Linked DNA regions of Homo sapiens: region 1 is linked to region 2. Evidence: fine-mapped expression QTL. A gene starts in region 2. The other region holds a variant in brackets. All regions are shown on one strand. Distances are from middle to middle. Region 1 has its middle 77 kb from the start of LINC01592. Region 2 holds the start of SULF1 (sulfatase 1).

Evidence for each region. PIP is the estimated chance that this variant, and not a neighbour inherited with it, causes the effect.
Region 1: its variant is the best candidate, but not a certain one, in a credible set for the expression of SULF1 in tibial artery (GTEx, PIP 0.66).

What each region holds. Positions count from the first base shown.
Region 1 is chr8:69,177,015-69,185,357 of GRCh38, forward strand. No RefSeq gene overlaps it. Among named protein-coding and RNA genes, the nearest start is that of LINC01592, 77 kb to the left of the region's middle. The variant T/C (reference allele first, on the strand shown) is at 4,265.
Region 2 is chr8:69,489,357-69,497,699 of GRCh38, forward strand. It overlaps SULF1 (sulfatase 1), which reads left to right and starts at 3,491. Exons shown (of 23, transcript NM_001128205.2): 1 at 3,491-3,769; 2 at 6,409-6,570.

The sequences.
Region 1 (8,343 bases), 310 kb before region 2:
GCCTTAATGTTACAGTTAGAAGTGGTTCTGAAGCTGCTCTACTGCCATTTGCATAGCACTCTACAGTCTACAGAGTGAAACTATTTAATTTGAACCTCTAAACAAGAGATAAGCATAAAACCTAGGTAGAATTATTCTTGAAATATCATGAAAAGCATTTTTCACTATGCACCTTGTGAAAATGAGCCGGTTTGCATGTAATGTCTATAACATCCACATAAACAGAAGTCATTATCAGATAAATCTTTTGATTCTCATGTACCTTTTTTATTCTGCAGCGTGTAAGCCATTTGTGCATTCTGTTTTCTCAAGTACTTCCTAGAGAAAATACATTAATTGATGTGCCTATTTAAATGTAGTTTTATCAGTAGTAATTCTAATTGCTGAGTTTAATTTGGCAACCTTAAGGAGTGCTAAGTCTCTAAAAACTCATCCTGTCTCTATGTTGCTTTGAACCATAAATTTAAAATAATTGGAGAAATAGAAATGACAACTGTTCAAGTCCTTTATATATTAGGATTAGGATTTCCCTAAGAAAATTCAAAGAATCTAAAAACTATCTTCCATAGTAGAATAAAGTTTGACAGTGACTCAAAAAGGAAGTAGACTTACTTCTTTCTTATTGTTGATGAAATCAAATTTAACAATAAGAAAGTCTGTAACAAGTTCATGTGTATCTTTGTTTGCTTTTTACTTATTATCATGATAACCCTTCTTGTTTCCTCAATATATCCTAAGAATAATAATAGCATTTGGAAAGTTATTTTCCTTCCTCAAAACGGAGAATGAAAACTTAAATCTCACAATGACATTATGAAGTTTATCACTCTTCTCTTCATTTAAAACCAGTCAGTAAATATATTTTAGCATACCTTCTTTTGTATGGTGCCAGGCTTTCTGTACTATGAAAAAACTGGGTGCAGAAACTTTTTAAAAATTTTCTTTTGGTATTCTAACACCAGCTATAAAGTTAGGAAAAGTAACACAAGCATCTAATACTTGAGGCACAATCACCCTTGCCACCTATTAGCTTTGTTGGGTTATTACCCCCCTCACTGAAAAAAATAACAAACTCTGCTTGCTATAGTGGGAGTGCTCACCGTGCTGAAGCGCTGGCCGGGGCAAGAGCTGGAGAATGGGGCTTTTGTTAGTTATCCTTTTTTTGTTGTTTTCTCACAGGCTGGTCTTGACTATTACTTCCTTCTTCGTGCCTTATCTGTGGGTGAAATAATCCTCTGGAAAAATGAAGGGTAGCTTGACCTCTCATTTATCTCTGTCCAGAGTCCACTGTCACCAGACTGATGAAAAGTGGGGAAAATAGTCCGTCAGCAGAGCCTGTTAATTCAAAGATCACTGTCTGACTCATTTTGTTTTGGGAGTATAGACTTTCTTTCTGTTAAGTGAACAAATTATTTTCTTTCTGTCCAGTTCAGGTATAGAATGATTAGGGCCCCTGAAGAGTAAATTGGACTCTGATGACTGTGGTAACGCAGAAGTTGGAAAGTCAACAGCGTTGTTAAAATAAGACTTTCCTTCCAAGTGTCATTATGTGTGCCAGAGCCAACTGTTCGTGACAGCACCAAGAAACAGGCCTGGATTGATAAAGCTGCACTTAGACTTATCCAAATTAAGGCAAAAAGCTAGCTGGGAATGGACAAACCAGACAGCACAGATTCGTGGAGACAAAAGTTGCCCTTTGATTGGAGTGTGTAAATCAAAATTTGCTAAAAGTTTGAATTTCTTCCTGAAGTTTCCTTTGCTTTTCTCCAAAGATATTTTGTGTTGATAAACTAAATCATTTTTCAATATTCTCCTTCCTCTTAGACTGAAACCCATGAATATCTGTGAGCTCACAGATATCATAGAGGTAACTAAATGTATAAAAGTGCTTCTATTTGTTATCTTAGAATATGTCATAGGAACCTCCTCTTTGAGGCCAAACTTCGTAACAGTGGAGACTGTGTGACATGGTTTGGCTGTGTCCCCACCCAAATCTCACCTTGAATTGTAATAATCCCCATGTGTCAAGGGCGGGGCCAAGTGGAGAAATTGAATCATGGGGGCGGTTTCCCCCATACTGTTCCTGTGGTAGTGAATAAGTCTCAGGAGATCTAATGAGTTCATAAAGGGGAATTCCCCTGCACATGCCCTCTTGCCAGCCACCATGTTAGACATGCCTTTGCTTCTCTTTTGCTTTTCACTATGATTGTGAGTCCTCCTAAGCCATGTGGAACTGTGAGTCCTTAAATCTCTTTCCTTATCAATTACCCAGTCTCAGGTTTGTCTTTATAACAGCGTGAGAACAGACTAATACATTGTCCTAAAGTGGCTCAGAGAAGAATCTAGCAGCTGGTGATAATCTTACCTTGATAGTTTAGGGGGTGTAGGGAAATGGGATAAAAATAAAAAATAGGGCTGGGCACAGTGGCTCACACCTATAATCCCAGCACTTTGAGACACTGAGGAGGGAGGATTGCTTGAGGCCAGGAGTTTGAGACCAGCCTGGCCAACCTAGTGAGACCCCATCTTTTCAAAAACAAAAGAGAATGAAAAATATGAGCACTTTCTAAAGTGACCATAAAGAGTTCTGATTGAAATGAGAAAAAAAAATACATGTAATATGTTATTCTGGGATGGGGACTACAAAAACAATTTGATCCCAATTTCAGATATACATATGTATTTCCACACCAGGTATCAACAGTGGCTACTTATGAGTGGGACAATCATGGTAGATTTTTATTTATTTGTCTTTTACAACACAATTGACAACATAACTGGTGCCAGTTACTTTGTAGATTATGGTTTGAGGGAGCAAGTTGCCACACTTTTTCCCATCTGCAAAGCAGGGAAGGAAATGCTTCACTGAATTGTTGTGATGACTGAATGAGGTAAACTCTGAGTGAACTAGACAGATAACTATTCACCAGTATTCTAGAGAGACTGGGGAAAGCAGATGGAAATAAAAAGGGAACAAACTGAGAGAGAAGCATAACAGGCCAGAAAAGAAAGTTATATGTTGGGGATATAGCTTGAAATGTGATCAGAGTGTGTGTGGATAGGGCAGGTCAGCGGGGGACAGAGCCGGAGTCTGTTTTCCAGGTGACTGTGTGGTGTCTCCTGCAGCCGCACTCCCTGAGCACCACAGAGCTCTTTTCATTCTTTATTACAGAGGCCAGGGAGTGCAATGACTTGTCCACAGTCACATTTTTCAGCACTCTCTGTGGTCCCTGAAGTCTACCCATCCATTACGCATCCAAGTAAAGCTCATGAAAGTCAGAGAGCATGCCGCCCCAGCCCTCCCTCTGTCCTCCCCTGTGTCTCTTGCTCTCTCGTCTCTGGAGATTTACCTTGGTCTTCAGCCTCAATCTACTTGTTCATGACTTTGGTCTGTCTCCTCTTCACCTGTCTTCTTGAGTGAGGATGCTCCAGTTCCAACTCATGGCATATCACCTCAGCCTTACCATCACTCACATCCCTCTACCAACTTGGAGCACAACTTGGGCAATACCAGATTAAACAATACTCTAGCGTTTGGAATGCTTAAATTCCAGTTTGTCTGTTACTTCAAAAGATGAAGGCTTCTACCTACATTGCATCTCTTTCTTTTGATAGAGTATCTAGATACAGACACAATCAATATTAGAAGTCCTACAGAAGTCATTTTGTAATTAATATTTTTGGTAGCATGTCAAAAGAAAAGCAAAAAGGGTTGTAATAGATAAGACATACAAACACCTTTACTCTGTAATTTACCTTTCCTGAATTATGATAGCTTAAATGTCTCCTACCTAAGTACTTTCACAAGCATATTTATAAATCATAACAGGAACTCTTATTATAACAATCCTAATACATGTTTGTTCATGCCTTCATGTTCTTGAAGGTATATTCTTTAACTTTTTCTATTTTGGTTTTGACATGTATCTATGACTATTGCCAAGTTTAAAATTTATAATAACTCTTAATTTTAAAATATTTTTAAAGTATATTGATGGTATTTAAATGTCAAAAAATTATTTTACATTTACTTGAGGGAAACAAATTCAGTTTATGTAAATTTTAAAATGAGAATAAAAACAAGACTCAGTAGCAGTTTGTATCTTTTAAACATAGCCCTGTGAGTCTATGTTTCCAAGAAACAATTTTTTCTTTAGTGACCACTACAAAAGAATAAAAAATACTGTCATAAAAATATTGTACTTCATGTGTCCCTTGGGCAGTTAGTTGAGTCATTGCCCTAAGAAAGAAAAGACCAGAATTC[T/C]CATAAAAGTCCAGTGTTGACTCACCAGATGTTTATGGCTGAGCCATTCTTGTGTGTGCTTTTCCTAGGAAAAAGAAACTCTTGTACCCATCTCATCCATCTCTTCTCAAAAGAAACAAGGCCATTTCAGTATCTTCAAATCTGAAAAACAGTACTTCCTTAAAATCATGATGATTTTATATCCATTTTGAATAACATTTTAATAAGGTTTTATTAAAATGTTTTGGCTTTGTCTAAGTTTTCTGAGGCAAAGTTCTGGATACTTTGTCCAATCTTCATATCTAAAACAATCAATAAAGTCATTTTCCACAGAAGCATTTGAAAATCTGTCTATAGAATTTATGCTTTTCCTTTCATTTTCTTTTCATTTTGATGGTATGCATATATATATATATATATATCTTTCCACTATTAAACCAACAAAATTAAACTCCAAGCAAACTATATCCATATTCGAATTGGGTGTGACAACACATACTTGGTTACAAAGAAAAGTAAATATTTTCCTGGCCAGGTGCAGTGGCTCACATCTGTAATCCCAGCACTTTGGGAGGCCAAGGCAGGTGGGTCACCTGAGATTAGGAGTTTGAGACCAGCCTGGCCGACATGATGAAACCCTGTCTCTACTAAAAATACAAAAATTAGCCAGGCATGGTGGCATGTACCTGTAGTCCCAGCTACTTGGGAGGCTGAGGCAGGAGAATTGCTTCAACCCCAGAAGCAGAGGTTGCAGTGAGCGCAGAGATCACGCCACTGCATTCCAACCTGGGCAACAGAGCTAGACTCTGTCTCAAAAAAAAAAAAAAGGAAACATTTTCTTTCAGAAATTTCTTATTAATGATAATTTAGCATTAATTTTATTTTTAAAGCTCAACGTTTCTAATAGGAGAGATGAAACCCTGTCTCTACTAAAAATACAAAAATTAGCCAGGCATGGTGGCACATTCCTGTAGTCCCAGCTACTTGGGAGGCTGAGGCAGGAGAATTGCTTGAACCCCGGAAGCAGAGGTTGCAGTGATCGCAGAGATCAGAGATCACGCCACTGCACTCCAGCCTGGGCAACAGAGCTAGACTTTGTCTCAAAAAAAAAAAAAAAAGAAGGAAACATTTTCTTTCAGAAATTTCTTATTAATGCTAATTTAGCATTAATTTTATCTTTAAAGCTCAACGTTTCTAATAGGAGAGTGTACTCTCCATCAATCTGCTCAACTCTGCTTTATCACAACTGAGAAAGCTCTGCCAATCAGCAATCGGCTGAGTGAGGGTTTGCTGTGCATCTTGCACTTTGTTAAGCTCTGTAAAGATGCAGAAGAATGTTTGTTGTGGTCTCTGAACTCAAGGAAGCTCAAAGCTAGTTGGAGGGAGGAGAAATGATGAAATAATACCCATTAATTAATTAATGAACATGACAGTAAACTATATGCCACTTCTGACAAACTGTGTCGTAGTTCAGAGGAGGGAGCAGTCTGTACACCTTGCAGCTGTCTTTCTGAAAGTGTGGTCTAGCATGGGCAAGTAAGTTCATGATATTTCTTTCCTTTGATCATTTAATATGCTAATATGCCTCACGAATTAAAGAAAATGTATTATTTTATTACTCTACATATTTAATAAATGTTTATTGGGTGCCCATTATGTGTCAGGGAATTCAGCAGTAAGTAACACAAGGCCATTCTTCATATGAAGATGAAGGGTTGGCAGGTAAACCCTCACCAATAGGGTCTCACCTGAGCAGAGACCTGAACAAAAGGAGAGAGCAAGCCACAAGGTGATGTGGGGAAGAGTTTTCCAGGCAGAGAAAACAGAATCAGAGCTAGGAGCACATGATCCATGTTGCAGGAATGGGAAGAAGGTCCTGGGGCTAGTGCTGAGGCAAGGAGAGGAATTACTGAAGTACCAAATGTATGTCAGTTTTCTAAGTGAGCATACATCACTGAACCCTCACTCATTTTCTTGAGAGAATCTTATAAGGCTAAGGGAAAGCAGAACACATTTGCCAACAATAATTAGGGGAGCGGAGGTTGGATGTGCCCTAGATGTTGGAACATGGGCTGGAGTTTGCGGTTGATCATGTTGAGAAAGGACATTCCAGGAAGCAGCAACAGAATGAACAAAGGCCCACAGGAAGGAGGGAAAGGAGAACGGGAGGGGAAACAAGAATGCCAGGATGAGACCTGAGACCAGGTGGTTATTTGGCCAGGTTTAATTATTCAAAACTAAGTGCCTGGAACATGGAACACTGGATATTTGAAGCTGAAAATATATTTTGCAAAAGTGAATGTGAACCTTGAATTGACTAGAAATGTTTCATTTCTCCCTTTAACTTTGAATGGGTATGTACCTTTTTTATTTAATAGAATAATTTTAAATCACAGGATCTGCCTCTTGGGGAAGAAATGCCAGGCATTGTTAACAATGATTTATGTGAAATCATTTATTTAACTCATTCAACAAATCACTCATTTATTCATTTACTCAGTGAGCCAGTCAGTTAAGATTTATTAAACACTTACTGTTGAGAAAACAGTGTCAAGGGATGGGTGGGTTACAAAGCCACTGAAGACCCAGCACTGCCTTCAAACAATATCTGATCTCCTGTGGAGCATAATAAGACTGGCATTTGCTTTTCAGGAAAAATTGATGTGTTACTACAGAATCTTATACCAGGTTGACTATCATTCTAGAATTCTCAAGGAAACATTGTGTCTGAATGAAAAATCTAGGATTGTCAAGCAACTCATAATACATGTTAAATTACTGCCCTAGGATGAATGTAAGATGAGCCTGAAGAAAATAAAGACCTGATGGCGAGCTGGGGTTGGTCTACGAAGGCTTTATAATAACCTTTGATTTCTTGAAGAAAAAAAAGAAAATTGTGATGGCTTGATGTTGACAAAAGTTGGAAAATAAACTTATTTATGCACTTGGCAACATGTACTCTGCAATTCTGCTGCCAGGTCCTGCCTGTTCAGAAAGGCTTGCTTTTAGGATACAAATTGCTACAATCAAAGCCACTGATGAGACAACTTCAACTCACCCCTTCCACGTTTTCCACAATTAAAATCATGGAAACATACGAAACTCTCTCATTTCACTATTTGCGCAGGCTGTTCATCTTTCCTTCTTTAACTTCTTTGCTCCCTTTCCAGACAATATCTTTTACTTGCATTGTACTTTTAGAACACTGTTTCTGACATGAATAACCTCCTTACATTTCCCTTGAGGTAACATTCCCTGGAAAAAATACAGAAAGGGGCAAAGGCATCTTGTCCAAAGGAAGTATGGAAAGCCTCTTCCCGTTACCACCACAATCCTCTACATTACGTGCAAGGAGTCAGAGAAGGACATAGTGGTAACAAATTGAGTCAGTATTTCCTCTGCCCTCCTGCCAGCTCAGAGTTCTGTATGCTTTCAGAGCTGATATATGGAGGAACAACACAAGGTTAACTTTTTTCAGTAAAGAGTTTTGTTGTATAATAATTTCTACTTAAACTATAATTTTTGACAATTATCGTCAAAATTGCTCATTTAACATAAAATGTTTAGTGCCGACTGGTTTTATAAAGGTTATTATAAAGCTTCAGTTATCAGTGCATATGCCTTCTCAGCTACACTGTGAGAATTTTAAAGAGACATAGCTACAAATATAGACTTCATCATGGACAGAGAGAGCACCATATATTTTCAGAGTCTAGCACAGTGCTTTGAACACATTAGATGCTTGTTTCTCATTTAGGAATTGGTTGTTGATTTCAGAGAAGTAACATGCTACTTAGGTTATGCCTGTGACATTGGACAAAGAAGCACAAAATCTAGGCATTTTTCCCAGCTCTCCATGTAATTAAATGTCAATTCCTAAGGAAGTCACTTCACAGCTCTTGCCTTGGTTCTCTCATTTATACAATTAATAATAATAAAAAAGAAACACCTAATTCAGCATTAATACATTTTCCACAATAATTGAAATTTTATAATTCCATAATTCCATAATAGTTCAAAATAACAACTATTCGCATGTTGATTTGGCTTTCCACTGGCAAATAGTGTTTAGCACAGGGACTAATTTTCCTACTGAACTG
Region 2 (8,343 bases):
AAGTATCCTACACTCCTCCCTTTGGTTTGAATGAAAAGAGTAGGAGAGCCCTAAATCATCCAGACAAATTACATCTTTAACTCTTTACTTAATTTTAGTCTGTCACAAGGTAAATATTGACAAACTTTAGACTTATAGCCAGAGGGCTAAAAAAAAAAAATAAGTCTAGCTTGCCACTGTGGCTGTTTTCTGCCCTCCATTTTTCTTTCTTTCTCTTTTTTTTTTTTTTTTTTTTTTTGAGATGGAGTCTTGCTCTGTCGCCCAGGCTGGAGTGCAGAGGGGCGATCTTGGCTCACTGCAAGCTCCGCCTCCCAGGTTCAGGCCATTCTCCTACCTCAGCCTCCCAAGTAGCTGGGACTACAGGTGCCTGCCACCATGCCCAGCTAATTTCTTGTATTTTCAGTAGAGACGGGGTTTCACCATGTTAGCCAGGATGGTCTCCATTTCCTGACCTTGTGATCAGGAGCATGAGCCACTGCGCCCGGCCCCCGCCTTCCGTTTTTCAAGAATACTGTCGGGACACACACAGGTCAGGGAAATGTAGATTCTCTCATTTCCCCTGGTTTTTAACAAATGTCCTTTATATAAAAGACAAAACTTGAGATGTTCAGGCTCTGTCTGAAACTACTGGCCTCTTGCATCCTTTAGATAAAGGACATTTGAAGTTAATGCTGGGCCTGTCATCCTTAGTTATACCACGTTGGACAAGGCATTTTATCTTCTGGATCCCAAGTTCCATACTTTTCTTTTTTTTTTTTTTTTTTGAGATGGGGTCTCACTGTGTTGCCCAGGCTGGAATGCAGTGGCACAATCTGGGCTCACTGCAACCTCTGCCTCCTGGGCTCAAGTGATCCTCCCACTTCAGCCTCCCAAGTAGCTGGGACTACAGGTATGCGCCACCACACCTGGCTAATTTTTTTATTTTTTGCAGAGACGGGGTTTCATCATGTTGCCCATGCTAGTCTCGAACTTCTGGCTCAAGCAATCCACCCGCCTTGGCCTCCAAAGCACTGGCATTATAGGCATGAGCCACCATGCATGGCTATACTCTTTAATGAGGAAGTTAAACAAGAGTTTAAAAATTTTTTTTTAGCAACAAAACCATTGTCTCAAACAAAGTCTTAAGTCACTCTATAAAACAGATGGAGATAATATTTCTCCATTTGACTCCAACTGAGTAAAGTCCAAGCCAGATTGCCTGGCCTCCCTCACATTCGTCCCCTTCCCACACACTGCCAAGGTTCCTGAAGTACCCCTTGAAAGCCTAAAGCTTGTTGGAACCCAGTTTGAAAACCACCAGATGAGATAATATCTCAGGTTTCTTCCAGCTTTCAGTAGAATAGAAAAATCATTGACTATGGAATCAGACCTAGATTCAAATCCTAGTTCTGTCACTTTCTAAGCTGTATGACCAGACTCAATTTACCCATCTGTAAACGAAAACAAAAATAGTTCTGCTAGGTTAAAAAGACATGTAAAGCATCTAGGCCAGTTCCTGAAACCCAGGAGGGATTTGTAAATAGTAGCTATAATAAAGGTTATGGTCCTCACCTGAGCATAACAAAATGAGAGATGATCCTACACTTGAACTACAAATTTGCAGTAAGATCGCTGTCATTCCTGAAGCCGAATCCTCAGGAACTTGAGGCCAAAATTCTTTAAAACCTGAATTGGTTTTAATTGTTCCAAATTAGTAGAGGGGGGAAAATTCTTCTAATTCACTGAACAATCTGTATGCGTGGAGAGCATGTACTGCATAGACACACCCCAAGTCTCTTAAATGACACCACGGTCGATCCAACTAGCACAGGTGGAATTTGAAGCATGTTACTTTTACCAAAAAATAACAGGGGAAATGTCATTAAGAACACTTTAATACAAAGCCACAAGAAATTCAGTATCTGACAGCTCATGTTCTATATTTCACCCCATATCATAAAACAATTCACCAGAGAGCAGTTGTTCATTTGCTGAGCTGCTGTTGTGATAGCACATATTATTTCAATAATGGAGGAGTTCCTCCATAAAATCAGTCCCAGAAGCCAGTGATGTCTGAAAAATCTCACCTTTGGAGAATTTTCCTGGCATTCTGTAAAGGAAGTTGCACTTACAGGTCCTCTAATGTGCAGCAGCAAAGGAACAACAGATGCCAACATTCTTGTTTGCCTCATGAACTTAAGCCCTAAAGTAAGCTGACTTGAGTAAAGTTTAGAGGCTCCCCTTCAAGTTTTAGAAAAGCTTTCTTGTTTAACTTATGCAAATTTACACACCCTCATGAACCTATTGCATATATCCGACAACCGTCCATATTTTAGTACCATGTGGTGGCTCTCACCTATGCCCATATAGCTGGCGACAATGCAGGTAAGATCTGGTCAGCTGTCAGTTTCATTCAGTGAATACTCACTGAGCACCTGCTTTATGCAGGGCCCTGTCCTGGGCCACCAGGGAGAACAACGCAAGGTTCCAAACCTATGGAGACAGACAACGCATGCGGAATGACAACAGAGAAACAGAGTCACACGGAGAAAAGAGGGGAAATTGGGGAAGGCTTTTGTGGGGGAGGCGGGATTTGAACTGAGCCTTGAAGGAAGTGGGTGTGAGGATGGGGGTATGAGTAAAGATGGGAAATGGAGAATTGAAAGGCCGTCTTTAGAGAATGATTCACATTATAACGTGCTGGGGAGTAGGTGAGGCGGGAGGGCGGGATGGGAAGTGGGAAATTAGTGTGGAGACAGAAATTGTGGGCTTTGAGTGCCAGGATGAGGAATTTCTTTGCGTGTTGGGAAGCAGTGGCAGGCGCAGGACAGGATAATAATAATTTAAAGAAAATATGAGTAGCAAGTTGTGGGAGCGGGGAGGGAAGCTTGGTGCTCAGAATAATCAGAACTTTCTCAGTGGACCCAGGCTCAGTGGAAAGAGCGCTCTGGTTCCGTTTATTGCTCCCACAGAGAAGAGAGGAGAGACCCAGAGAGGTTTAAAATTAGAGGGGTCGACAGGGCACAGGGAACTCCTGGCCAACCATCCTTAGGAAAACAAGAGACCAGGAATAAAGAGAACCAGCAGAAGCACCTGGTCTGAGTCTAAGAAACATCAGTGTTTACTAAGCACTTGGTCTCTGGAACGCCTGGCTTTCCAAATACCACATCTTCCCATCCACTCCATCCTGCCACAGGCAGCTACTGTGTCGGGTGCTCAGGGAGCCGGAACCACATGCCTGGAAACCCTGAGCCCCTGCCCGCCGCCGTCCAAGCCGGCCGGCTGCAGCGCAGTTTGTTTGCCGAGGTTTGCATGCACATATTCAGTTGCCCTTTTTTTTCCCCCAGTCCTTTCAGCCGTGTCCCGAAATTCACCCTTAGTGTAACTTCTGCCTCTGCTCCTCCTCTTCTTGGAACTGCCTTTTGTTTGTCTGGCAGCGTTGGTTCTATGGGGGTGTGTGATGATAATAATACGCGGGCTTATATAACCGTCTTCATCTTGCGAGCACTTCGCAGACCGTCGCTAATGAATCTTGGGGCCGGTGTCGGGCCGGGGCGGCTTGATCGGCAACTAGGAAACCCCAGGCGCAGAGGCCAGGAGCGAGGGCAGCGAGGATCAGAGGCCAGGCCTTCCCGGCTGCCGGCGCTCCTCGGAGGTCAGGGCAGATGAGGAACATGACTCTCCCCCTTCGGAGGAGGAAGGAAGTCCCGCTGCCACCTTATCTCTGCTCCTCTGCCTCCTCCCTGTTCCCAGAGCTTTTTCTCTAGAGAAGATTTTGAAGGCGGCTTTTGTAAGTATCGTGCTCTGCTTTTACTTTAAAAAGAAAGAAGACAAACTTTCCTTCCTGTCCCTGTCCTTTTCGTATTATTTATTCATTATTCATCATATTATTATTCATTATATTCTCAGATGATGGAAAGTATGTTTCTGGCCAAAGTCTTCCACCCAAATTTGGTCCCTTGTAATGATAATAAGAGGGGAAAGAGGTTTCTGTTGATAATTAATTCACTTAACAAAATAGTACCCAGGCGAGGTACTGAAATTGGCCACTTTCACAGCATTCTGGTGATGTCTGGCTGTTGATACACACCACACACACACACACACAACACTACACACACACACACACACACACACACACACACACACACACACTCCTTTTTGCCCTTAAGAGGAGCCCTAGTCACCTGGCTTGTTAGACAAGGAGAAATGATGCCACTTTGGTCTTCAGTTTCTCTGCCTTGGGTACTCACAATTTCAATCAGTTGTAATTGTTGAAAGTTTCTTTTCACACTACGAAATAAATCCCATCTTTCAGTGCAGGCTTGAAACTTGCACTGGCTTGGGTAAACTGTACAAAACACTGTAGCTATAGTGGACATGTGAATTTTTATTAAATTTTTCACTGCATAACCGAAGGTTCTAATATTAAAGAAACATGGACACTAACTTTTTAAGCACAGGCAAAACTCAAAGCCCTGTTATCAAACTATGTGTCTTAAAGAGTGCTGAATTAACAGAGTACTCTTCTCAGAGATTATGCTCACTGCTTTGAGAAACTGCTTTTCAACAAGAGGTGAATTTAAAACTCTAGAATAACATGAAGAAAGACACAACTTCTGAATACTTAGCAACTCTGACTTGCTATTTGAACAAGCCAAAAAACAAAGGGTCTATTTTGGGCAATTGTACAATTTGCATTTATAAAACCGTGATTATAACTTGGTATGCTATGAGATACAGAGATTTATTGTTTTAATAAGATTTCAGGTAAGAAAACTAAGAACTATAAATTGGTAATAATGTAGAAAAGCAAGGCCTCTCACTTTTAATGCTGTAAGTGCTGTGATTCATTTGTAAGGCTTTATCATCTTTACCTCTAGATGAATAGATGTGAAAACCATGTATAGTATGTATGTATATGTTAGTGTGTATATGTGTCTTTATCTTAAATTCTTACATTTGTTGTATCTATCTAGTGCTCAGTATGTTATATGATAGTACAACATCCAAAATGGATCAAGTGGAGAAATTTATTTCACATCAACTTTCAGATTGCAATGTTTATTCAGTATTTATTAACACACATGGGAAATATTATAAAATTATGTCTTTTTTTAGATTCTCTTTAAATGATATTTTCCCTTAGAATTCTCTGTGGCTCCCATGAAATTCTAAGGTATAATTAAAGTCAAAAATAAGATTGGATTCTAGTTGCTTTTACCCCTAAATTTAAAAGTGATATTTCAACACTAAATTCTATACTTTACCTAATTTGATTACAAAGATGAACCACATAATCTCAGCATTAGCCTCAAAGGCAAACTCAATCATAATAGAAGGAACACAAGCTTTGATGAGATCTGGATTTCAGGCTTAGTTTGGTCAAACTGAATTAACTGAGCCTTGTGACACACACCTGTAGTCTTAGCTACTCCGGTGACTGAGGCAAGAGGATCGCTTGAGCCTAGAAGGTGGAGACTAGAGTGAGTTGCGTTTGTGCCACTGCACCTCAGCCTGGGTGACAAAGTGAGATCCTATCTCAAAGGAAAAAAAAAAAAAAAAAGAGAGAGACTATTGTAGTGTTCCAGTGAGAACTGCTGGGGGCACTGAGCAGTGTAGGTGGACAATAGGGCGCAGATTCCAGAAATATTTAGAAGGTAGAACATTCTTGACTCAGGGCTGGATGAAGGGAATGGAGGAAAAGGAAACTTTTATAATATTAGTTTTGGGCCTGGGCTACTGGGTAGTTGTAATAGAATACCATAGAACAAGAGGAGGTACTGGTTTATGAAGAAAATTGAGTTAGTTGGAGTAATATCAGGTTGAGATATCACTAAGAGGTTAGACTGCAACGCTGAGTAAAAATAAAAAGCAATTTTTTTAAGCATAAAATTATCATCTGGATGTGGTGGCATGTGTCTGTAGTCCCAGCTACTCAGGAGGCTGAAGCAGGAGGATCTCATGAGCCCAGAGGTTCAAGGCTATGGTGCACTATAATCAAGCTTGTGAATAGATACTGCACTCCAGCCTGAGCAACATAGTGAGACCCTGGCTCTTTAAAAAAAAAATGCTAGATTTTTGTCTTTGAAATTTTGAGGAGATACATAAAGACTGAGCTCTCCCTACTATGTTCTAATGCCCCCCAAGAAATGGTCACTATCTGGACTCAATGAAATCAGAGCTTTAATCTTGTGTCCCTGCTGCCAAATGAATTTTTTTCTCATTAACTTTTCAATAGGAAGCCCATGTCTAGGGCAGTCTTGCCTGTAGCTATGTGTATCCTCAAAGAGAGTAATTTTTACTTCTTCAGAGACTTCAGAAATGAGCAGAGACTAAAGATCTATGAGCTAGTAGAATACTTATTCATAAAAAGCACATATGCATGAAGAAGTAATACTTATCAAAAACAAACCCTTTCCTTAACAGGGATTCTTCACTTCTCTTGAACAAGGAACTCACTCAGAGACTAACACAAAGGAAGTAATTTCTTACCTGGTCATTATTTAGTCTACAATAAGTTCATCCTTCTTCAGTGTGACCAGTAAATTCTTCCCATACTCTTGAAGAGAGCATAATTGGAATGGAGAGGTGGGTAACATTCGCAAATTTTTTAAAGATGACAACTGGAAGAATTTTAACATTTTGAATGAATAGAAATCAATCTGATTAGCAGGCAGGAAGCTGTGACTTTTTAAATCTTGAGGTCTGATTACTTGATAACCCTGGTTTTCTTATACCCTTTCACCCTTTCTGTGCTCAGCACTTAATCTTCTAGGCAAAGCCTCTATCGGATTTCCTGGATTTCAGAGCTGTTACCCTACCTGAGCACTTCAGAGCAAATGCCATTTCTTATAAAAGGGGCTTAGCCCCAGACTTTATGGCTAGTCTTGCAAAGTGGTATAATATTTCTTTCTGGTACGTGAACTGTATCAACACATTTAAAAACAGATTTAAAAAGCTATTTCCACCTCTAAATATAAAGAGCCTTACCACTTATTAGAAAGATAGCATTTGATAACAATCTGAATTTCTTCCACTTCTGATGGCTCACTTAATTCACCAAACTTTGGAAATCATCTTTGACTTTTGAAATGGTGAAAAACATTTCTATTTTTGCTAAAATGCTTTTGCCATAAAAAAAGAAGTGTCCCAAAAAGGAACCGTTAACATCTCAGCTATGCAAAATAATCACCAAATATATACTTTTGAATAAGATGACTGCATCATGGGAAAGTTCATTATTTAAGGAAGGAACAAGATATATTTGGGGAAATTCCCATTAGCACAATTGAAGTATGAAGAATATACTGAGCTTCCATATATGGTGCTGGTCATTCCACATTTAGGTTACTCAAGCCATTTAAACTTGGCTTCATAAGCAAGTACTACACCCTCACAATCTTTTTAGGTTAGCCGACATAATGATTTACTCCCAACTGGGTGCTGCCTGAGCCACTGTGCTTTGCCTCTGCAGTGTTTAAAGAGTGGATAGTTCGCAGCTGTGAAGTTCCCCAGACACCTGAGTCCAAACTGTTGCTGGATTTTGCTTCTTTCTGTGCTCCATGGAAAGCTGGAAGCTCCTCAACTTTCTCTTGGGTTTGGCTTCCTGTTCACATGTTTTCTGGCCCCATGTCAATTGTGTATGAAGTAATAGTCCCACATGCGTGCACCATCCACGATGGCAAGATTTGTGTGGTTCAGCATGAGTTTTCTAATGAGCACACTTTGGACCTTCCAACAACCCTTTAGGAAAAGCAGTTTGGAACCAGTTATTACTTTCCAAGGTGACGGAAGCTAAAACAGAATGTTCTTTTCTCTTTTTTTTTTTTTTTTTTTTGAGACAGAGTCTTGATCTGTCACCTAGGCTGGAGTGCCGTGGTACAATCTCAGCTCATTGCAACCTCTGTCTCCTGGATTCAAGCAATTCTCCTGCCTCAGCCTCCTGAGTAGCTGGGATTACAGGCACCTGCCACCACGCCTGGCTAATTTTTGTATTTTTAGTAGAGACGGGGTTTCACCATGTTGGTCAGGCTGATCTCAAACTCCTGATCTCATGATCCACCCACCTCACCCTCCCAAAGTGCTGGGATTACAGGCATGAGCCACCAGGCCCGGCCCAGAATGTTCTTAAGCAACAAGACTAAAGCCACTTTTAAGAGACAATTAAAGGACAACTGCATAGGAAAAATGAACATTTACCTTACACATCTGTCTAAATGTGTGTATGTGTAAAGTATATAAAAATGCCTCCAATTCACAGTTTAAAAATATCAGTTACTGTTTCAGCATTTTGCTACTGATGAATGGTGCTAGTGTTTTCCACTAAGGACTGTTATTTTAATGACATTTCTCTGCAGCAAA